Regions from separate parts of the Homo sapiens genome. Here region 1 is linked to region 2. Evidence: fine-mapped expression QTL. A gene starts in region 2. The other region holds a variant in brackets. All regions are shown on one strand. Distances are between the middles of the regions. Region 1 holds the start of EFCAB6 (EF-hand calcium binding domain 6). Region 2 holds the start of PNPLA5 (patatin like domain 5, triacylglycerol lipase).

The links. PIP is the estimated chance that this variant, and not a neighbour inherited with it, causes the effect.
Region 1: its variant is fine-mapped to the expression of PNPLA5 in hippocampus (GTEx, PIP above 0.99). The same link has a PIP of 0.9 or more in cerebellum, cerebral cortex, iPS cells, nucleus accumbens and prefrontal cortex.

Annotation. Positions count from the first base shown.
Region 1 is chr22:43,807,405-43,819,798 of GRCh38, forward strand. It overlaps EFCAB6 (EF-hand calcium binding domain 6), which reads right to left and starts at 4,901. Exons shown (of 32, transcript NM_022785.4): 1 at 4,764-4,901; 2 at 1,591-1,727. EFCAB6-DT (EFCAB6 divergent transcript) reads left to right here and starts at 5,018. Exons shown (of 2, transcript NR_186822.1): 1 at 5,018-5,580; 2 at 9,510-10,498. RefSeq lists a silencer at 4,423-4,664 and enhancers at 4,996-5,265, 5,507-6,308. The variant C/CTG (reference allele first, on the strand shown) is at 5,913.
Region 2 is chr22:43,888,302-43,900,299 of GRCh38, forward strand. It overlaps PNPLA5 (patatin like domain 5, triacylglycerol lipase), which reads right to left and starts at 3,712. Exons shown (of 9, transcript NM_138814.4): 1 at 3,387-3,712; 2 at 2,761-2,993; 3 at 1,498-1,563; 4 at 1,028-1,237. The coding sequence starts at 3,579. RefSeq lists an enhancer at 9,139-10,338.

The sequences.
Region 1 (12,394 bases), 81 kb before region 2:
AAAATAAGCATCAAGTCACAGACCATCAAATACACTTCTTAACCAATGGGAAAAACACAATTAGAAGGCTATCTCACTGATATATTTGTTTATTTGCCAGAGAAGTATTGATGTCCAGTTTTAAACACGTGCTATTTATATCAGAATCATAACAAAAGTGCCATCCATCTGCCTTGGCATCCAGAGAAAACATAATTCAACACAAGAGTAAAAAGTGTGCACAGCCAAATAGAAATGGCACCAGAAGCAAAAATTGCTGGAACTGTATCATGGAGAGGGGTGTGGAAATTATCACTCGACTAAATTGGAAAAAATTGTAAGCAACACAAAAGGTTTTGGCAGTTAAATCCAAACACTTGAGAAAAATCTTCTTGTCTATACTGATATCAAATGGACTGTTATATTTTGGGACATATCAACTATCAAGTTCCCTTTATAGCCTTCCACACACTTCCATATACACATTGGCCATTTACTGAGCATCTACATTCTTGGACGGTGGAAAAATCAAAACCTTTGACGTCAAGCAGGCATAGGGTCAAACTGGCTCCACCATCCACCACAACAACTTGCAAGTTAATTAACCTCCTCCTGACTCAGTTTCCTCATTTGAAAAAGGGAGATACAGTTGTCGTCCATATCCATGGGTTCCACATCCACAGATTCAACAGTGGATTGAAAATATTCAGGAAAAATATGGATGTTGATGTCTGTACTGAATATGTATGGACTTTTTTCCTTGTCTCAATGATATGGTATAACGATTTCCATAGCATTTACATTGTATTAGGTATTGTAAGTAATCTAGAGATAATTTAAAGCATATGGGAGGATTATGTAGGTTATATGCAAATACTACACCATTTTATATAAGGGAATTGAACATCCATGAATCTAGGTATCTTCGAGTGGGTGCTGAAACGAATCTCCCACAGATACTGAGGGACCACTGGAATATCTCTCCTTTAAGCAAGTATTCTTAACATGGAATCGCGGTCCATGTGTGTGCTTTTATAGCCCTACAGACTTACTGACATGCAAAACTGTGTGTGAGATGATTTTTCTAGAGCACTTCTCAAAAGGCAGGTGACCCCAAAATGGTAAATGCCACTGCTCCAAAGGTGTAGATGGATCACAGGTGATATTCGTGAAGTGCCTGGCACACAGTGAACTTTAGCTATTTGGTAGCTGTTATTTTTAGGTCCCGAGGATATACAGAAAGATAAATCAGACAGAGCATTGGGCAAAAACAAAAACAAAAACAAAAACAAAAAACAGCTATATGGTTATAGGTGTCACCTCAGAATATCAGAATAAAATAACAGAGAAAAAACAAAAAGTGAGTCCAGAAAAAAACCCAGCAGGAAGAACTGGCAGGATGGAAACACCAGGAGTGCCAAGGCAGTGAGATGACCACTGCCTGGGGATCCCCAATGCTTAGGCAGGGGTTGGCATATGGCAGATGCTCAATGAATAGTTGCTAAGTAAATGAGCAAACAAATGACTGAAACCAACCCAGGATGCAGGATAACACCATTTACAACGTCCCAGGGGAAAAACTACATTCAGAAGGTGTTATCGAAAACTTACTATTCAGAAATCTTCAATCTCAAATATTCAGTTCAAATGCTAAAGTCCACATTCTCTCCCTGAAGAGTGAGGACATTAAGCCCACACTTTTGTCATTGGGCAGTAATCTAGGCCCTTCCAATCCTCTGCGATGAGCCCTGTGAGAAATTTATTTTAGAAACAGGTTAGACCTATTTTTCCAGATGAATCAAAAGGCCTTATTTCCCTGGAAAAAAAAATAAATTTTATTACCTTCTATTTTTTTACTTTTATTTTTCCATGAGTTGACAAGAAGCTCCCAGCTAAATTTCCAGCCCAACTTTATTAACCGTTATAGATGATCTGAGTATTCCTTCTTTCTGATACCTTCCTATTCTGTCTATATTTTTAATGATTCTGATTTACATGTTTCTATTTTATCACATTGTAGTTATTCTTACAAGTCATCTCAAAGCCTTGGCAGGACTTGTAGAGTATATAAGTGTTTGAGAGTGATAGCATACTCATCAAGAACACAGGTTATTATCAGGCAGTCCTGGAGTTGGAGCCATACTCACTACCATTTATCAGCTTTGTTAAGTCCCTTAACCTCTCTGTGTCCCTGTTGCCTTTTGTTTTGTTTTTTTGTTTGGTTTTGGTTTTGTCTGTTTTGAGATGGAGTTTTACTCTTGTTGCCTAGGCTGGAGTGCAATGGTGTGACCTCGGCTCACTGCAACCTCCACCTCCCAGGTTCAAGAGATTCTCCTGCCTCAGCTTCTGGAGTAGCTGGGATTACAGGTGCCTGCCACCATGCCTGGCTAATTTTTTGTATTAGTAGAGATAGGGTCTCACCACGTTGGCCAGACTGGTCTCGAACTCCTGACCTCAGGTGATCCAACCGCCTCGGCCTCCCAAAGTGCTGGGATTACAGGCATGAGCCACCGCGCACAGCCTGTTTTGTTTTTTGAGACAGGGTCTCATTCTGTCGCCCAGGCTGGAGTACAGTGGCATTATCATGGCTCACTGCAACCTAAAACTCTTGGGTTCAAGTGATCCTCCCATCTCGGCCTCCTGAGTAGCTGGAAGTACAGGCACATGCCACCATAGATATGGGGGGGGTCTGACTTTGTTGCCTGGGCTGGTCTCGAACTCCTGGCCTCAAGCGATCCTCCTGCCTCAGCCTCCCAAAGTGGTAGGATTACAGGCATAAGCCACCACACCCAACTTGTACTTTTCCATAGCCAACTTGTGAGGACTAAATTTAAAAAGTATGAGGGACCAAACTGTGCTTGGCACACAGTAAGTGTTCAATTAGTATTAGCCAGTAGTAGTATTAGTAGTTGCTGTAGTAGAAATAGAAGTAGTAAAACTGTGGACAAATAGATGGAAAGAAAAAGTAACAAATGGTACCTGAAACAAAGTAAACAAAATAGCAGTGAAAGATCAAAACCAAAAGTAGAAAATGAAGCTTTTAATACTGAAAGGGTATCATATTCATGTTATCTCTATTCACAGTTTTCTCAAACCTGTCTCAGTTGTTAACAACTGCCTTGTTAACAACCAGTGGCCTCTCACCAGATTCCTGATCTGGGCAGGCACCAGGCTACTAAACATCCTCATGGAGCTGGTTCTGTCTCCAGGTGCCAGTCAGCTGCAGAGATCAGAGCATGGGTGCTATAGAGATCTCTGTACAAGGGGAAGAGGTAGATAGCTGGAACAGGGCAGTTTTTCCCTGGAGAGCGAAATTTACAGTCTCAGGTAAGCACTTCTTGATAAATATCTATGATCACCTATCATGAACCAAGCATTAAAATAAGCATAGAGGAAAAAGGGAAAGCACAGATAACTAAAATAAAATCCTCATCCTCAAAGGATCTTGCAATAAGACTGGATAGGAGGCAAATATCTTCACATATAATCAAAGGGGCCATTTCTGACTCACTTTCATATCCCCAGAACTTAGCCAAGTAAACGTTTGCTGAATTGAAGGCAATGGATAAAAGACATGAACTGTAGTGTATGAAAGTAGAATTGATTTACAGCATTTCTGTTAAGGCCACCCATTTAGGAACACATATTAAATTAGGCCAAGGCGGGCGGATGGATCACTTGAGGTCAGGAGTTTGAAACCAACCTGGCCAACATGGTGAAATCCCGTCTGTACTAAAAATACAAAAATTAGCTGGGCGTGGTGGCAGGCGCCTGTAATCCCAGCTACTTGGGACACCGAGGCACGAGAATCGCTTGAACCCGGGAGGTGGAGGTTGCAGTGAGCTGGGATCGCTGCACTCCAGCCTGGGTGACAGAGGAAGACTCCATCAGGAAAGAAAAGGAGAGGCGAGGGGAGGGAAGGGGAGGGGAGCGGAGGGGAAGGGGAGGGGAGGAGAGAGGAGGGGAGGAAGGGAAGAAAGGGGAAGGGAAGGGAGGGGAGGGGAGGGAGAAAAGAAAAGAAAAGAAAAAAGAAAAGAAAAGAAGAGTCCTCTTAACAGGGGCAAGACATCCTGAAAGGCAAAGATTTGGAGAGAAAGGAAGGGAGTAGAGAGAGGGGTGATTTGGACAACCTTCAAGTAAGCCCTATACAGATGTATACCTCACAAAGTGCTTCCAAACAAAATTTCTGAGGGAGGCAGGGGTAATTATGTGCAGGCTGTGGGAGAAGAGTGTAAAAGAGCAGAGATTTTGCCGTGATACAGAAATGAGTTTGAATTCTGGCTCAGAAACTTCCTAAGATAGTTGTGTGACTTTGGAAAAGCCCCTTCACCCCACAGGTTTCAAGTCCTCGTCTGTCTACAGGAGGGAGTCAATCATGACATTCACAAGACTGCTGTGGGCACAAATGAAATCAGGGGCATGAGACATGTTGTAAACTGGAGAGATTTAGGGCGTTTCCACACACATTTCCCAGCTGATTCTCACAGAGAGGCAGGGAAGAAGACGTCACCACCGTCAGCGTTGTTTATCGTTCTTCTCCACATATCAGGTAAGCTACGGGAACAGGGGCCCTACTGTTCCCCACAGGGCCCCAGGGCCTACAACATGCCTGGCACAAGCAGACGCGCCATGAACACCTGAATAAACGAATCACCACCCCTTCGTCCCTGGGGGTGGGCAGCAGCGCCGGCCTTCTCAGGGCAGTGAGACCCACGGAGCTGCCCGCCCGCCCGGCCCCTCCTCGGCCTGTCGCACGCGCGTGGCCACCCCGAATACAGCCTTACCGGGAACCCCTCCTCGATTCTCCGCCTAGCTGGGCCGGCACCCGCGTGCGCGGACCCCAAGCCGCGGGGTCTCAGAGGGGCTGCCCATTCGGCGTCTCTAGGACGCTGTTGCCCGAGAGACGACGGCAGTCGCTGACTGGAGAATGAGCCTACGCGCCTGGCAAGAAGCTGAGCTGTGATTGGTCAATTGGAGATAAACGAGGAGGGGGCGGGGCCAGGTCAGTCCCGCGCCTCCGCTCCCGGAAGAAATTTCCGCCGGAAGTCCCGTTCTCTGGGGAGCGGGAACCCTGGCGACCCGTGTCATGGGAGCGGGTTTCTGTTACGTGGGCTTTAGCGCGAGCTGGGCGGTCGGCCCGGTCCCACCGAACTGCATAGGGCCGTGTAGCCGGGGGAAGTCAGCCCCCTGCTCTGAGAAGCAGACTCTGCATCTGTAAAAGGCTAAGCGTGCCCACTGGGGCCTGTGGTCAGGATTGGCTGCAGTGAGGTCCGCAAAGCCCCTACCGCATCCTGCGCCTTCGTTAGGGTGAGCAGTCATGGGGACTCGCATTGTGCCACCACGTAGCGGGTCTCACTGGGTCCGCTTGTCTGCTCGAGGAGACAGCCGGTGAGGACGGGAGCTGGCCTGCTTTGCCCAGGCTGTAACCTCAGCCTCCGCCCATACCCACAGTAAGCATCCATTCCATTGATATTCGCTAAATGAGTGAATTATTACTAAGACAGAGGGCCGAGTGGAAGCGCCATAAATCACGTGAGTGAATGTAATTGTTGTCGCTGACCCTATGGAGCACTTCCCTTGCCAGGCACTCACCCATCCTAGGTATGTACTTTACATGTAATTGTCATCTTCATTTGTCTTCACAACAACCCTGTGAGGTGGGTGCTGTGGTTACTCCCATTTTACAGATAGGTAACTGAGGCACACAGAGCATTTTGTTCAAGGACACACTGCCAGTCAGGGGTAGGAGCAGAATGAGAACCTATGGAGCTTGCTCTTAGGCACCCTGCCACACTGCTCACTGTGGGAGAGAAGCAGCCAGGCAGACGTGTGCAGCTTGGAATTCCTTGCACACATGGCTGCGGCAGGTCAATTAGGTGCCCTGGTGTGTGCTGCAAAGATGGATACTATGCGGTCCCTGCTGGGCACTCTGA[C/CTG]TACTTCACTGGGCAGCTAGTTTTCCTGTTCACCAAGAGAATTCTTTCCCATGGCTTGTCTCAGACCTCCCGCACTCACTACTTCCTCACCGGACTCAATGACCATGGGTCTTATCCCATTGAGAAAATGTAATGCATAAGAATGGAATGCACTCCTTCACAATCACTTTGGCATTCATCGCCTCTTTTCCTCTTGCCCCAAAAGAGGGTCTCTTACAGAGGCCAGTCCCTCTAACTGTGTCCTGGATCCCTCCCCATTTGCCTTCTTTATTATAGGCAGTGCTCTAAGTGTGGTCTGGGAATCCCTGGGGATCCTGAGACCCTTTCAGACTGTCCATGGGGCCAAAAAATACTTTCATAACACTTAAGACTTTACTTGCTTTTTCATTGTTTTTCTCTCATAAGTATATGGGGGGATTTTCCAGAAGCTACATGATGTGTGATATTGCAACAAATTGAATGCAAAAGAAGGTAAGAGATCCAGCGGTCTTGTACTAAGCCAGATGTTAAAGAGATCTGCAAAAATAGAAAACTGCCCCTCTTTTCACTTTTTTGGAAAGTGTAATTTTTCATTAGAGAACGTTAACATCTAATGGGTTTATTATTTTTAATGAGTTAATAAATTTTTTATCAATTGTATTTTCTAACATGGTAAATATTGATAGATATAAACATAAATAAAAGTTTTTTGGGATCCTCAATACTTTTTAAGAGTGTGAATGGATCCTGAGGCCAAAAAGTTTGGTCCTGAGATCAAAAGGGCTTCAGTTATTCCCTCTCTCATGATAGCCAAGAGTCTCATTCTTTCTCTTTCTCTCTTTCCCTCCTTCTTGGAACATGCTCTAGTATCTCACATCTTTAAAAAAAAAATAGATGATCTTCTGGTTTCCACCCCATTTCTCTGCTCCTCTTTAACCTGCTTCTCAGTAGAGCTGTCTATACATGCTGTCTTTCAGTTACCAAATTTCACAGAAGCGTGACTCTCATTGCCTGGTAACTGGCATTCTCACAAATACTTCTTCTCTACTTGGCCGTACATTACTTGACCTCTCAGTAGCATTCAGCCCAGTTGATCACTCCTTTCTGCCTGAAATACTTCAGGCTTCTCTAATACCACACCAACTACTCAATTCTTGGGCCCCACTGGTGACTTCCCTCCTCTGTGTGGCCTTTGGATGTTAGGGCCCCTCTGACCCTGTCGTAGGTCCTGCTGTTATGCTTCTCACCAGCCTTGACCCCTCTACTGGAATGTACTGGAGATCACTCAGACTTAAGCCATCCATATTGCCCTTGATCCACTCACCTCCCTCACTCACCTATTACTTTTTTTTTTTTTTCGAGACGGAGTCTTGCTCTGTCGCCTAGACTGGAGTGCAATGGTGCGATCTCGACTCAGTGCAACCTCCACCTCCCAGGTTTCAGCAATTCTCTGCCTCAGCCTCCCGAGTAGCTGGGATTACAGGCGTGAGCCACCATGCCCAGCTGATTTTTGTATTTTTAGTAGAGACAGGGTTTCACCATGTTGGCCAGGCTCGTCTTGAACTCCTGACCTCGTGATCCGCCTGCCTCGGCCTCCCAAAGTGCTGGGATTACAGGTGTGAGCTACTGTGCCTGCCCGCACTCACCTATTCCAAAGCAATGCTCAAACTAGGAAGCCTTGTTGTTACCCTCAATGATCACTACCTCATACCCCATATCTAGTGCTTCAGCAAGTCTTGTCGATTCTAACACCAGAATACGTACATGGTAGCAATCTCATCCATTCTCTCCAAGTTCCCCTGCACTACCTTGCCTTAAAAGCCTTCTTATGCTAAAAATAAAAATCTTTAAAACAGCATGCAGGGCCACTGGGACCATCCTACAACCTCAACCTCATTCTCCCCCCAGGATCGCTATGGTCACAAAGCCCAGAAGCCAGCTTGAATGGGGCTCCTGCTGGCCAGAATAATGAAGGACAGTAAAAGAAATAGGAGTCATGAGTCCAGGCCCAGGAGCGATGGACAGATAGAATAAATGCAGGACAAGGGAGGGCACGTGCTTGCAGTAGCAGGCCTAGGGACAAATGGTCATGCAGGAGGACTAGAGCTGAAAAGCCATCATGTTGCAACCACTGAGTGAAGATTGATTCAGGCAAGGATCATTCACGGGTGCTTCATCTCGGGGTTCTTTGGATGGGGAGCAGGATATTTGCATTGTTTTAAAGGATAGTCCCACAGATCACTTATTACTTACAGGAGAAAAAGTAGTCATAATACAAAAGAAAAATGGACAATGCTTGGATACCATAATAAAAATTAACACTACCAACAAGGAGCATGGACATTGTGTGGCTTCAGATGTAATGTGAAGGACAACCTCCGTTGAAAAGGGCAACTGCTGTAGTATTCTAATCTGGAATGCATCACCTAATCCTATCATAAGAAGACATTAGGAAAAAAAAAATAAAGATAATTCCATTTTTTTAATGGTTTTTGGTGTTTTGTTTGTTTGTTTGTGACAGAGTCTCGCTGTGTTGCCCAGGCTGGAGTGTAGTGATGCGATCTCAGCTCACTGCACCCTCCACCTCCTGGGTTCAAGCGATGCTGCTGCCTCAGCCTCCCAAGTAGCTGGGATTACGGGCACACACCACCAAGCCCAGCTAATTTTTGTATTTTTAGTAGAGATAGGGTTTCACCATGTTGGCCAGGCTGGTCTTGAACTCCTGATCTCAAGTGATCTGCCTGCCTCAGCCTTCCAAAGTGCTGGGATTACAGGCATGAGCCACTGTGCCCAGCCTGTAACTTACTTTCAAATGCTTCTGAAAAAATTATGTATTGATAGATAGCAAATAATAAAGCAATTGGGGCAAAACGTGCACAGTTTAAGTGGATCTGAGAAAGGGAGTTGTATTAGATAGGGCTGCGGTAACAAATTTCCACAGACTGGGCAGCTTGGACAACAGAAATGTATTGTCTCACAGTCCTGGAAGCATCTTCAATCCAAAAGAACCTGAGGGATAATTTTAGGTGATAAACCCTGGCCAATGTCTGGCTGTGTGGGCAAACATGGAATTCTAGTAGGGAATACCTTAATGTCTTTTGCACTGGCCTGCTCTCAACAGTGAAGCAGGCCGGGCACGGTGGCTCATGCCTGTAATCCCAGCACTTTGGGAGGCTGTGGCAGGAGGATCACCTGAGGTCAGGAGTTCGAGACCAGCCTGGCCAACATAGTGAAATCCCATCTCTACTAAAACTACAATGATTAGTCAGGCGTGGTAGTGGGCACCTGTAATCTCAGCTACTTGGGAGGCTGAGGCAGGAGAATTGCTTGAACCAGGGAGGCGGAGGTTGCAGTGAGCCAAGATTGCGCCACTGCACTCCAGCCTGGACAACAGAGCGAGACTCCGTCTCAAAAAAAAAAAAAAAAAAAAAACAACAGTAACAGTGACGCACACATAAGTGGTGTACAACTGGATCAATGTAGCCAAGAACCCAGAAACTCAAAACCCTTGCTGATTTCCTTGAACCCAAGGATAATTTTTCTATATGTTGAAATGACTAATTAGATGAGTCCATCATGAAGTTTTGTCACGTGATTCTCTCTTTTTTCTCCTTAAAGATCATCTTCAATCCAGAGGGTTTTCCTTGTTCCAGGAAACGTCTCACCTCCATGTGCAGATTTAATTTTTACAGAAACTGAAATTTCCCTCATTTATTATCTAGATGAGCCCCTAAAATCTATTCAATAAGGTTTGATCTTTGATGGAACAGACCAGAGTTGTATAATGTGACAGTGGCCCCAAGGAACAGTTTGTAGGAGGAGATTGTTGTCTTCTCTGAAAAAAACTTCCCAGAAGACATTGATGGTTCCCTTAGGTGCCCTGCAGTGGGTCCACTTCCAACAGGCTGAAGCCTGGATTTGGTGGGTGAGGGTCCTACCTTTTCCTAGATACCATTCAGCATCACTGAAGCCAGTAAACTCACCTCCTGAGGAACCGTTACCATCTGTACTATTTACACCCATGGCATGAGTCTGCTGCTCAAGACCTTTGATGAGAATCTTGAAAAGGAAACCATGAATTGCTGGAGAAAATATCTTTACACTTATATGCAACAGATGGTCCATTCCCTCAGTATTCAAGAAGAAACTCTGGGATCATGGAGACCTGGGTGACAATCACCCTCTGCCCACCCTGCGGGTTTTGGGGGCTTGGAGCTGGTTTTCACCACAATTCTGTACACCTAAGAGACTGGGCCGTAAGATCGAGCCTGTAATTATCTCACAGGCATCAGTGATGATGTTACGAATGCAGATTATGCCTTCATGTGGAGAAAGAAACAGTAGGGGCTGATTAGCCACGAAGAAGTTAAGTACTGGTTTCCACCATGTCTATTAATAAAGAAGGGAAGAAGAGCAAGTACGTGGCAGGGATGCGTAGCGTGTCCACATGGAAGCGGAGAGCCTCTCCCTCTCAGAAATCTGCTTCCCTGACTGCTGTCCTTTTGGTAGTCTCATAAAATGGAGACAAGATTCTCTTCAGCTGTCCTGAGGAGGAAAAAAAAATATGACATAAAAATAAATGAGGTATAAGTAGCTCTTTTGGAAAAGCTACTGTGGTTATTTTTTCTTTATTAAAATAGCTGCTTTATCTCTCGAATATTTACCTTGACAGATGACGCAGCTGCTCGTTTTAGTTCAATCAGCCAGAAACTAAATTGCACATGTTAAACGTTGTCACTACAAATAATTGATGATTACTTGTAAACAGGGGGCCATTTGAGGATCTATCTGAGGATCCTCCATGGAGAGCGGCTCTCCACAGGCTCAGCAAAGCACCTAGGCATGTTCTCTTTCCCCTTTAAGAGACTGATATACTATTAAGCTCTTAATTTCCTTTAATAGCTACTGGTTGTTTCCTTTCACGGAAAGAAGAATAAAATCCACTTATGTTGCTCCTGAACAAGATTCCGTGGTGTCGAACACTGATATTTAGAATTTTAATGAACCCTGGCTGGGCGCAGTGGCTCACGCCTGTAATCCCAGTGCTTTGGAGACCGAGGCGGAGGGATCACCTGAGGTCAGGAGTTCGAGATCAGCCTGGTCCACATGGTGAAACCCTGTCTCTACTAAAGATACAAAAATTAGCCAGGCGTGGTGGCAGGTGCCTGTAATCCCGGCTACTCAGGAGGCGGAGGCAGGAGAATCGCTTGAACCCTGGGAGGTGGAGGTTAAGGAGAGCTGAGATCGCACTACTGCACTCCAGCCTGGGTGACAGAGTGGGACTCTGTCTCAAAAAATAATTTTAATGAAACCTGCCTCCCAAACATTATATTGCAGCAATCTTAGAAGAATGCACCACCTCTGGAATAGAGAAGCAGTTGGGAAAGAAGTGTTTCATGTTTCCTACACCTGGGCAACAGGCAGGCCCCTGACAACCACAAGTAATTCTTTCCTGAGAGCCGGGATCTTGCAACAGCTTGTCATTAGTGCTGTTTAGCATTTAATTTGCCTTTAGTTAGGTAACAAGCATTTATGGATTACCTGTTAGGAACGAATGCACAGTATGGGAACAGAGGGATGAATGAGGCACAGACTCTGCTCACAGCCTACTTGGACTAGAAATATCTACTCAGGAAAGAAAACTTGAAAGCAGTTAGCAAATGCAAACCGATATACCACTACAGGGAATCATCACTCTTTCCGAATTCAAGGCTCTAACTGCTGGCACACTTCTAAGGAAAAAAGATATGCGTTTCTGCATCCCGTCTCATGATGGGAGTGAAGATATGCCAGTCACGCCTTCTGTGGGCTAAGGAACGGTCCGGCCTTCTCTTCCTCTGCAGAGTCCGGGCGTGATGGAGACGCAGGATGGAGGCAGCCATCACCCATTGAAAAACAGCCTGTCTGCCAGATCTGGTGACCCCCCCCTAAGGTCCTTGGTAAAAACTGAGGCCTAGTTGTGTCCAGGATGGCAGTGAGCTGGGATTCATTCATGGCAGCCCCCAGGAGATTGCGTTTTTAAACCAGCCCAAGGCATGTGGTGGACATGGATTGGCAGCACCTACAGATAACGGGGAAGGCTTTCCAAGGGGCCAAACGGTCCATAGCAGTTAGGGAAGCGAACGTTAGAAGTGCAGGTCAAGGTCTCAGAGTGAGCAGTGTGGCTGGGCCAGAGAGGGCCTTCCAAGTGCATAGCCAGTGGAGGCAGCTGGACACAGCTGACATGACAAGGCAAGGCTGGATCCGTCAGACTCTGGGAATGCTCCCAGCCATCAGGCTTCACGGAGCACTGCTTCTGTGCTAAGTTCCTGATGCCAAGGAAAGTGAGAGAGACATGGCCCTGGCCTCAAGAAGCTTTCCCGGCAGATGGCCGTGTATCCGGGATATGTTAAGGGAGGTGTAATATTAACCAAAAGTGGAGCTCTGAGCTCCTACCCTTGGCAGAGGGCTTCTTGGAGTAGATCATGCCTGGACTGTGCCCAAGGGCGTCTTGGAGTAGATCG
Region 2 (11,998 bases):
TAGAAAGCACTACACAAACCTGAGAGGTAGAAGGGACAAGGAAGAGCCAGGATGTGGATGGGGCAGAGGAGTGTGTGTGTGTGTGTGTGTGTGTGTGTGTGTGTGTGTGTTTCTTTCTTTCCTTCTTTTTTTTTTTTTTTTTTTTTTTTTTGAGATGGAGTCTCACTCTGTCACCCAGGCTAGAGTGTAATGGCACTATCTCGGCTCACTGCAATCTCCACCTCCCAGGTTCAAGCAATTCTCTTGCTTCAGCTTCCTGAGTAGCTGGAATTACAGGCATGCGCCACCATGCCCAGCTAATTTTTGTATTTTTAGTAGACACAGGGTTTCACCATATTGGCCAGGTTGGTCTTAAACTCCTGACCTTAAGTGATCTGCCAGCCTTGGCCTCCCAAAGTGCTGGGATTATAGGCATGAGCCACCACACCCGGCCAGGAGGAGTATATTTCAATAGTTGTCAAATTATCTGTTTTCCAGAAATACCAAGGGGTAAAAAAACGCTTCCTTCATTTTTTTCTTTGCATTTGTGCCTTGCCTCTACAATGGATGGTCAATTTGGCCACAGTCAAGGACGGTGGTCAAGAGCATGGGCCTGAGCCAGCTCTAGGTCTGAATCCTGGTTTTGCTGCTTCCAGTCTGTGTGACTTTGAACAAGTTGCTTAACCTCTCTGAACCATAGCATCCTCCCCTGAGAAATGGAAATGATAACGGTACCTGCCTACAGACCCTGGCCCAGAGGAGCACAGGCAAAGGCCCTGCTCAAAGGCCAGCTAAGCAGAGTTGGCGTGAGTGTGTCCCATTGACATGGGGCCAGTCCTCATTCATCACTGGCTCAGGGCAGCAAGAACAGTAAGGACACAACTGAACCCCAAGCTTAGGATTCAGGTGTTTGGCTGTGAGACTCGGGACATGTGTTGTAACTGCCTTCAGGCTCGGGGGGCAGTGGGGGTTAGGAGCACACAGAGTCTGACTCACGGGGCCCTTGACCTTGGCCAAGCCTCTAACACCATCACAGGGCCAGACCTACCTCGAGGCTGGGGGGTATGAGACATATGAGCCCCAGGAAGAAGTTCTCAGTGGAGATTTGGAAGCTGAAGTTGAAGACGTTCAGCTCATGCAGGTTGGGGGAGGTGCTCTGGGGGCAGATGTCCACTGTCCCATGGAAGGGCGACACCGTGATGGTGGAGGGGCAGTCTGCAAAGGGCAAGTTGTTGCTCAGAGCCCCATCGATGTAGCGCTGCAATTTGTGGGGAGCAGGTGGGTGGTGCTGCCCTCTCAGAGGGCCTCCCACACTGGCTGCAGCCGGTGACCCTCCAGCTGTCCCTGAGTCACCAGGGCCACTCCAGCCCAGGAGGCTGAACGCCCCCCAGGAGCAGGGGGAGGGCCTGGCACACAGTAGGTGCTCAAGGAGCGCTGGTTTCCTCCACCCAAGCACCTCTCCACGGTGTGCACCCCAGGCTGCCCAGAGCACAGAACGGGGTTCCAGAGTGCACTCACCTCCCCTCTGAACTCGGGGGGGATCAGCCCGCAGTAGAAAGGAAAGTATAAGGTGCAGACCAAGGCCTAGGAAGAGAAGAGTCAGCAGGAACACAACTGTGCATGCTTCTTGCATTCAGAACCTTCCTAGGCACGGTTTCTAATCCCAACAGCCTGCAAAGGAGGTGTCATCAGTCCCACGTCCAGATGAGGGAGCTGAGGCATCACCTCCCAGCCAAGCTCTCCAAGGGAAGCAGGGATTGGAGCACCTCTGTCTTGACACCCACCTCCTCTTTCTGTGGGTGTGCAGGGAAGGAGGCCAGGTGCAGGCTCCTGAGGAAGCCAGCCGGGGACCCCAAAGAGTGGCCCAGACTCCTTGCCTGTGTAGCAGTTGGGATGGGGCCTGGCACATAGTAGGTGCTCAGTACACATTAGCTGCCGTGACTGTTATCAGTCTGTGGGAACAAAACTGTCACCTGCATCTCCATCTGGTCAGGGCCAGGATGGGTTCTGCACCTCCCAGAGAGAGTTGGGACGTTTCCAAGGGTTCCATGAGACAAAGTCCTATATTCAAAAGTTTGCAAGCTCTGGGTTGGTGGTTCTCAACTAGGAGTGATTTTCTCCCCTACAGGACACCTAACAATGTCAGAGACATTTTTGGTTGTCACACTGTGTGCCTGCACTTGAGCGTGCGCGTACACACTATTGGCAAATAATAGTGTCAGGGTGTATGTGAAGCATCTTTTTTAGACATCCTATTTCATTTCAATACTGGATGGTTCCTTACCTCCTTACTTGGAGATGAGTTCATTATCGATACCGCCTGCCCCCCAGAACCACTGAGCATAGAAGCCCCAGGAAGGCAAGGGTTTCTGTCTGTTTTGCTCCCTGTTACAGTCACAGTGCCTAGAATAGTGACTGGCACATAATAGGTGTTCAATAAATGTCAACCCACCGCCAAAAAGCGGCGGGAGGATGGAGTGGGGTGGAGGCTGGGGCTAGCCAGCTGCCCTCTGGAAAGAGCAGTCCCTGTGGGGGCCCTGACTCAGCAGCCTGACTCTGCCGGGCCCCAGCCAGACCCTTCTGTGTGCAGCAACCTGGAAAGTCTCCAGACCCACCCTGCCGACCCTCTCTGGGCCTCAGTTTCCTCACCTACAAACAGGTCCACCCGCCCTCCCTCCTTCCGCCCCTGCAGAAACGTCTGACGGGGAAGTACCTGGATGTCACTCTGGACTAGATGGAGCCCGCCCACCAGCCAAGCCCTGGGCACCCCCCGCCCCACACCTGGATGAGCTCATCGCAGGTGGCGAAGTCAGTGACCAAGAAGTTGCGTCCGTCAGGCCAGCGGGTCAGCGAAATGCCCAGCCGCTGGGAGGCCAGGACGTGGGCGTCGGGGGGCAGAGCATCCTGCAGCTGCTGCTTGACGTGCTCGATGGGCGCGTAGGCCGGGTGCAGGATGCTTAGGCTCAGCCGCTCCAACTGCCCAACCATGCCCAGGAGGTGGGAGCAGCAGAAGTCTGCAGTGGGGGCAGGGAAAGGGAGACCTCAGCGCCCAGGGATCCTGCCAGTCCCTCCACACCCCCACTGCCCTCCTAGGTGCAGTGGGAGCGGGGTCCTCCCCACTCCAGCTCAGAATTTCTGGGCTCGGCCCCGGATTCAAATGATCCGTTCACCTTTTCACTTTTTGCCCCGCCGACCTGGGAAACAGAGTTTCTGGCTCTGAGCCACGATCCCTCCTCTGCAAATGGGGGTCACCTAGTCCCCAGCACTCGGTGTTCTCATGGGATTAAATGAGGCTGTGCCGGGGGTAGAGGGCGCAGAGCACAGCGCCAGGCACCAGCGTCTCTGGGCTCGATCCGCTTTCATTAAGCTGTCCCCGCCCCTTTTCGCCCCCGCGGTCCGGGACTCACCGACCGACTTGCCGCAGACGATGCTGACTGCGTTGAGCGCCCCAGACGAGGAACCGTAGATGCGGCGGGCGCCCTGGAGGAGGCGCGGGGCTCGCTGGCGCAGGCATTCGGTGGCGCCCACGTGGTGGGCGCCCAGGTAGCCGGCGCCGGAGAAGGACAGGTTCCATCTGCCCTCCTCCTCTAAGAAGCCCATGGCGGGTGGACCGGGCGGGGTGATCGGGACGAGGAAGGGTCACTCCGTGACCCGGGATAGGGCCGGGATGCAGCCTTGGACGGGGCTGGGCCCAAATGTGGGCTCTGGAGGGAGCCGGGCTGGGGCTGGTGCTGGTGCTCCCTGCGCCGCCCCCGGGCTGCGTCACCTGCGCCCCAGCCAATGAAGTCCCCGGGTCGCGATCAGCCCCCACTCCAGTTGTGCGCCAGGTGTGCCCCAGAAGTGCCCGCGCGCTGTGTATACGCTGGCGCCGCCCCCACGCGCCCGCCCCGGATCCGCATCGGGTCATAGATTTCTGGGTGACACGGCAGGGGAGTGGGACCAAATCTTGCCTGATCTCTGGTAGTCTGGGCAGATGTTATTCCAGTCCTCATTACGCAAATGAGGCAACTGAGGCGCAGCCCAGGATGGTGACAGCCAGGAAGTGGCAGAGTCGGACCCAGGACACCTGGTCTTTGGGGTCAAACCAGGCTTAAGTCCGCAGCTGTGCTGGTTCCAGGGAGGGACTTGAGGGAAAGAGAGGTCTCGGGGCCAGCCTCCGCTCCAGCCAGCACCACTGCACCTTCCCCTGGCTCACCCGCTCTCCAAGCCTCACCTACCACTACAGCCTGCTCAAACATCCCACCTCCTCCCTCCTCCCCTAATCAATCCATTGGAAAGTGCTTTATAAACTGCAAAGCTCCAAGAACTTGGGTTTGTAGTGATTAGGGCTGTCTGGGCTCCAATTCTGGCTCCAGAATGTCTTGGCTGGTGACCCTGGATAATTTAACTGATCTGTGCCTCAGTTTTCTCATCCATCAAGTGGGGATAATAACATTACTTACTCCATAGGACCGGTAAGGATTAGAGTTAATGCAAGTAACGTGTTTGGAATAGCGCCCGGCACTGGATAAGCACACAAACAATGGTTACTACGGTGATTGTTTTAATCAAGTGGCGCACAATCAATGGCAACCGCTATGTTATTTATTTATTTATTTAATTTTGAGGCAGAGTCTCACTCTGTCACCCAGGCTGGGGTGCAGTGGCACAATCTCGGCTTACTGCAACCACCACCTCCCAGGTTCAAGCAATTATCCTGCCTCAGCCTCCCAAGTAGCTGGGACTACAGGCACGCACCACCACGCCCAGCTAATTTTTGTTATTTTCGGTAGAGACAGGGTTTCACCATGCTGCTCAGGCTGGTCTCGAACTCCTGGCCTCAGATGATCTGCCCACCTCAGCCTCCCAAAGTGCTGGGATTACAGGCAGGAGCCACTGCGCCCATCCCTGTGTTACTGCTTTAATCACATGGCACATATCAGTGCCTTCTCATGTGAGCTCCTTGAGGGCCAGGTCCTCCATCTGTGCCTGGAAGAAGTGTGGCACAGTGTTTGTGGACTGAATGCTCAGCCCATGGCCTGGGTGGGTCATTTTCGGAGGAAGAGGTGGGAGGATCTGCTTCTCTTAGCCTCACACCTACCTCTTCCTTGACCTGGGAGTGAAGGGCAGCTTGCCCATGGGCACTGGGTGCAGAAGGCACCCTGGGACAGGCCAGCCCAGCCTCCCCTCCCACAGAGGTGGGCGGTACCGGGCTTTGCTGATCCCACACCAGGGGCGGCATCCTTGCCTCAAAGACCATGGGCCTGCACAGACTCACCCACCTGGTGGCAGGTACCCCAGGCTATCTCCATTGCGGGAAGGACCCAGCCCCAGCTGCAGGGGGTAATTAGAAGCCATGTGCTGACTCTGCTCCAGGAGGGAACCAGGTCACAGCAGGCACAGCCAGGAACATTTCACCCACAGTTGTGACTGTGCCGGAGGCAGACTGAGCCTCCCTGGAACAGTGGACCACCAGTGTGAGTTCAGGAAGGGAGGAGTTCAGGGGCTGGGAGTTCAGCAGGGACATGTTCCGGAGGTTTCGGAGAAAAAGCAAGGTTTGAGCAGGACCTTGGAGGTCGATCAAGGGTTCACCACGGGGAGAAAGGGAGATGGGCACAGAGGGAAGAGTTTGAGCAAAGGCACCAGGCAGGGAGGAGTAGGGAGGAGTGAGAAGCCAGCCAGCGGGAGAGAGCAGTCATGGCGGTGAGGGCAGGTGGTGCGGGGCTGTGGGAGGAAGCGTAAGGCCTGGAGCCAGGCTGAGTTTCTGCGTGCTTGATGCTTCAGGAATTGGGTCTTGCATTTTGGTGTGGGCTGTCTGAGGCCCCCCAGAGACAGCAGGCAGCACAGAGCTCAGGGTGGGTGACTGGTCAACATCAAGTGGGAAAACAGTCTGGCTGGTGGCATCACCAGAATGATGGGGCTGGTGGCAAGTCTAGCAGAAAGTGTCCAGAAGCACGGCCTTCCCCAGCAGCACCATCTTCTCAGGGAGCTGCCCTGGAACCAGCAGCTGAACCAAGGCAGGCTCACTTCTGGGGTGGCTTGGGAGGTTGCAGGAAGGCCAGGAGCCTGCAAGGGAAGATGTCGGGAGTTCAGGCTTGCTGGCTGTGTGACCCTCAGCAAGTCTCCTACCCTCTCGGTGTCTGCCTGACCTGGCCATCCACAGGACAGTTGTGGGCGAGCTGGTGTCAAGGAAGATGCACCTGGTCCACCCGGTCCTTTGCCATATTGTCCAGGCCTCTGGGCTTCCCATTCTTGGAAATAATGCTAATTCTATTATACCTCCCTAAATCCAAAGCAAGCATAACCAAACGTACTGGGCCACCCTGAGGCCAGTCTTGCACGGTAGTGTCTCCAAAAGGAAGTGAGGTTTGCTTCCACAGAGCACTGGAGGCCCCTTGCAGGTTCTTCAAGGCAATAGGGGGCAACAGGTGGGTCCGTCCTAGGGCCCTGCACTTACATTCTTAGTCTCCCAAACTCCCTGCTACAGGAAGAGGTGACTGGGAGGGGCTTGGGGGCTTCTTGGATGCTGGAAATGCTTCGTAGGTCGCTCTGATTACATGGTTGTTTACCCGCAAAAAACTTCCCCATGTGAATGTGATTGCATTCACAATCCACGTACTTGACCATGTGAATGTCATAAAGCTTAAAAAATAAGCCTTGGGCTGGGCAGGGTGGCTCACATCTATTCTCCCCGCCCTTTGGGAGGCCGAGGCGGGCGGATCACCTGAGGTCGGGAGTTCAAGACCAGCCAGCCAACATGGCGAAACCCCGTCTCTACTAAAAATACAAAAATTGGCCAGGTGTGGTGGTGTGCGCCTGTAATCCCAGCTACTCGGGAGGCTGAGGCAGGCAAATCACTTGAGCCAGGAAGCAGAGTTTGCAGTGAGCTGAGATCTCACCACTGCACTCTAGCCTGGGTGACAGAGTGAGACTCTGTCCCCCCAACAAAAAAAAAAAGAAAAAGAAAAATTCAACGAATCCCTCACAAACTCTTATGAAAAATAGAGGAAGAAGGAACATTTCCCAACATATCCTATGAGGCCAGTATTACCCAGATACCAAACCAGACAAAGACATTAGAAAAAAATAAGGTTAAAAACCAATATTTCTTATGACTATAGGGAAAATTCTCAAGAATAGGAGTTCCAGACGAGCCTGGACGATAAAGCGAGACCCCATCTCTACAAAAATAAAAATTAGCCAGGCTCACAGCTGTGGTCCCAGCTACTTGAAAGGCTGAGGCGGGAGGGTTGCCTGGTCCCAGGAGTTGGAGGCTGCAGTGAGCCGTGGTTGCAGTACTGCACTCCCACCTGGGCAACAAAGCGAGACCCCATCTTGGAAAAATAAAAAGCCCCTCCCCACCAGCCACATGATTCTAGCTTGTCCCCTCCAAGCCCCCTCCCCTGCCTCCTGGACTCCACCTTTTCTTTTCCATGAGTCCCTCTGCCCCGGCATTTTCTCCCCAGGTAGAGCACCTGCCTCAGTCCCCCCGTTACTCCACTCAGTAGAACAGTGGTCCGAGCACGTCATGTTTGGGGCCTGGCCACATTCACCGATTGCTTACAGGCCTCTGGGTGTCACACACCTCAGTTTCCCCTCTGCAAGTGGAGATGTGGCAGGACGGCCCTCATAGGGTTACCTTTGGGGTTGCAAAGGATGACTGATGTCTGTAAAACACTGAGCAGGGTCCCTGGTACGTGCTAGTTATCACTTACTCTTTTTAAATTCCTGTCACAATGTGGAGCCTGCCTAAAGTCTGGGGAATTTTAGGTAAGTGGATTCAATCCCAGCCCCAGAAAAGCTCCCTCCTCCAATCTGGGAAACAGGTGCTAATAACTGGTTTGACTAGTGTGCAAAATCAGCCAGGGGCCTCAGCACTTGCTGCTCTGCCCCAGCGGACAATGGGCACCCACGCGTTTGCACTGCAACCCTGAGAGTGAGGGGAGGGTGTGGAGGATTGAAATGGCTCCTGTTGGGGGAGGGACATGGGGCAGCACTGGCTTCTGGCTGGGGCCCAGGGCGCTACCCAACTTCCACTAACCCGGGGTTTTCTGAGGGCAGGTCTGGGAAGGTGGGTGCTTGGTGTTACCAAGTGGGGAAGGGTGACCAGGCATCCATTATTTGGTGATAGGGACTGAGGGCTGATGTGTGCATGGTGACCTCCAGGAGGCACTAGGGGCCACGTGCACCGTGGCTTGTTTCCCGGACAGCAGAGGCACAAGCATGAGGGGCGACAGTCAGGTGGGGAAGGGCCGCTCCTGAGACCAGCCTGGGCAATGGAGTGAGACCCTGCCTCTCACCAGCCACATGGCTCTAGTTCGTCCTCTCCAAGCCTTTCCTCTGCCTCCTGGACTCCTGGACTCCACCTTTTCTTTTTTGAGAGTCCTTCTACGCCGCCCCCCCCCCCCGACCGCCCCCGTTTTCTTCCCAGGTACAGCACCTGCCTGGGAGCTTTTTATTTTGATATCATCTCCCATTTTCAGAAAAGTTGTGAGAAAAGTACAGTGTTCATGGCTACCCTTTGCCAAGATTTCCTGATATTAGCATTTGTATTTATTTATTTATTTAAAAAAAATTTTTTTTTTGAGACCGAGTCTCACTCTGTCACCCAGGCTGGAGTGCAATGGCACATTCTTGGCTCACTGCAACCTCTGCCTCCCGGGTTCAAGAGATTCTCCTGTCTCAGCCTCCAGCATAGCTGGGATTACAGGCTCACGCCACCATGCCCAGCTCATTTTGTTTGTTTGTTTGTTTGTTTTTGCGGGGGACAGAATCTTGTTCTGTTACCTAGGCTGGAGTGCAGTGGCTCCATCTCAGCTCATTGCAACCTCCGTCTTCCGGGTTCAAATGATTCTCCTGCCTCAGCCTCCTGAGTAAGTGGGACTACAGGCATGTGCCACCATGCACGGTTTTTGTATTTTTAGTAGAAACGGGGTTTCACCATGTTGGCCAGGCTGGTCTCGAACTCCTGACCTCAGATGATCAGCCTGCCTCGGCCTCCCAAAGTGCTGGGATTAAAGGTGTGAGCCACTGCGCCTGGCCCTGATATTAACATTTTTAAATAGGTTTGTTTAATACCAAAAAAAAATTTTTTTTAAGTGGGTTCCAGCAGAGATGGGCAAGGCAGGAGCTGTGGAGTGGTTGGTACTGCAGGGGCCGGGTGGTAAGAGCAGTGCTGGGGGTGGGCACAGAACAGCCACAGGCGTGGGTGAGCACCAAAGGCCCTGGATGCTGGAGCTGGGCACTGCTGTCAACTTCGTAAGATAAGAACAAGGAGTGAAATGTGGGGTCAGGTGTCCCCAGATCAGCCACCAGCTAACAGGAGGGGAAACTGAAGTGCAGAGGGAAACTGCTTAGTCAAGGTAACGTGGAGACTCCCAGTTCCTCCTCCTCCTCTCACTGCCTCCATCCCCAGGATTGGGAAGACCTCATCTCCCCTGTGCCCTGTCCGCCTTTTTCCCTGATGCCCTAGGGCATAGGGCCAGGCAGCTGGGCCAGCCCTGGAGCAAGCTACGGACTAGACGAGGGATCAGACATTGTAGAGAGGCAGCAAAGTCCCAGGGCCTGACACAGCTCACCTTGACGGGTTGGTATTGATCCCGCCCTGCACCCTCGCAGGAGCTGACGCCACAGAAGCTTGCACAGCACTTGCTCTGAGTCATGGCTCCCACTCCACTCACTCCAGGACCTGGTCTGAGTCACGGCTCCCACCCCACTCACTCCAGGACCTGGTCTGAGTCACGGCTCCCACCCCACTCACTCCAGGACCTGGGCGCCCAAACCCCTTTCCCCACATTCAAGTCCAAATGTCTCCTGACCCCTTTGAATTTCTGCCAGTCTCCTCCTCTGACCAGTCCAGGACTGCAGGCAGCCGGTTCCAGGATGCTGCCAAGTCTGACAACCGTTCTTCCAGCCCATGGTGCCCTAGATACCAGGGCACTAGCTAGCCAGGCCACAAAGCCAGGAGCAGCCACGGCCTTAGGTCAGAGGCCCTCCTTGTGATCGGGATGGAGGGCAGCTTCCCACGGCCCTGGGCAGCTGTTGACAGCCCAGTGATGGGTGTGGAGCTGGGAGCTGGCCTTTTGGGGAACTGAGGACTTACCTGGCCTGGGAGAGCTGCTCAGGGCTGTTCTGGTTTCTGGGAATACAGCTGAGACCCAGACTGACCACGAGTCTCACGGGGTGTCCATCCTGTGAAACCGACCAAAATGAAATGAAAGGAAGAGAATGAAATAAAAGTCAGCAAGAGATGGGTCAGCTAGTGAGAAAGGCTGTAGCAGAGGCGTCATGGAGAGGGAGCTACTCCATATTTCGTGGTCAGGAAGGCTTCTTGGAGATGATGGGTTTGAAGCTGACACCTAAATGACAAATAGGATATCTGGGGCTAGGGCCTCTGCCAGGCAGCAGAAGCAGCATAAGCAAAGATGTTAGAGCAGATTGGCTGTTCAAGGAAGCAGGACCCTGTGTGGGGAGTGATAAGGAGGAGGGGGCCAGGCTGGAGAGATGATGGCTGATGCAGATTGAGTGTGTAATGTCCCAGGCACCCCTGGAAGCATTTTACCCGGGTTAATTTCTTCAATCCTTTCAGCAAACCACTGCCGTCAGCCCTGATTTACAGATTGGGAAATAGAGGCACAGTGAAATGTGAGATGAAGTAACTTTCTTTTTTTGTAGGGCAGGGGATGGAGTCTTGCTCTGTCACCAGGCTAGAGTGCAGTGGTGTGATCTCGGCTCACTGCAACCTCCACCTCCTGGGTTCAAACGATTCTCCTGCCTCAGCCTCCCACATAGCTGGGACTACAGGCACCTGCCACCATGCCTGGCTAATTTTTTTTTTTTTTGTATTTTTATTAGGGACGGGGTTTCACTATGTTGGCCAGGATGGTCTCGATTTCCTGACCTCATGATCTGCCCGCCTTGGCCTCCCAAAGTGCTGGGATTACAGGCATGAGCCACTGCGCCCAGTGGAGGTGAAGTAACTTTCTAATCATTAGCTGATTACCTCATGACAACTCAGGAGGTGAGGTGCTTGGATTATCTGCATTTCGCACTGAGGCCCAGGGAGATGAAGCAACTTGCCCAGGTTAACCCAGCTGGGAACTGGCAGGCAGAGTGGCTCCAGTCTGTGCCCCAGGCTGCCACCTGTCTTTTCAGGAGGCCCTGTTGTGCCAGAAAGCATTGCACAAGGGCTCTGGGTGGGCTGTCTCCTTCCCCTGGCCCCGGAAGCCCTCTCCTTGCCTGTCTTGGGTGGCTGTGTTGCCAGGCAGTCAGCATGGGCTTTGCAAACTGACAGACGTGTTTCTAATCTCAGCTCTGCCACTGACCAGGTCAGAGACCTTGAACAAGTCACTTGACCCTGCTGTGCCTGTGCCTACTGTATCCCCTCCAAAGCTCAGGTTGAAATTTAATTGCCATTGTGACAGTATTAAGACATGGGACCTTTAAGAGGTAATCAGGGCCGGGTGTGGTGGCTCACACCTGTAATCCTAGCACTTTGGGAGGCCAAGCTGGGTGAATCGCCTGAGGTCAGGAGTCTGAGGCCAGTCTGGCTGACATGGCAAAACCCCATCCCTACTAAAAATACAACAGAATTAGCTGCGCGTGGCAGCAGGTGCCTGTAATCCCAGCTGCTTAGGAGGCTGAGGCAGGAGAATTGCTTGAACCTGGAAGGTGGAGGTTGCAGTGAGCTGAGATCACGCCATTGCACTCCAGCCATTATCCTGTGGGTCCGGCCTGTCTTGCTCTCCCTTCCTCTCCCTGTGCCATGTTATGATGCAGCCAGACATCCCTCACTTGATGTGGCTCCTCAGTCTTGAACTTCCCAGCCTCCAGAACCGTGAGCTAAATAAGTCCCTTTTCTTTATAAATGATTCAGTCTCAGGTTTTCTGTGATAGCAGCAGAAGACCGACTAAGACAGCACTTCAGTCTTCCCATCTGTGAAATGGAGGTGTTCAGGGCCACCTCTCCCTGAGCAATTGTGAGGATGAGATGAGGGATGTGCCAAAGGTGCTGGGCACAGCAGTGGCCGTCACGTCCCAG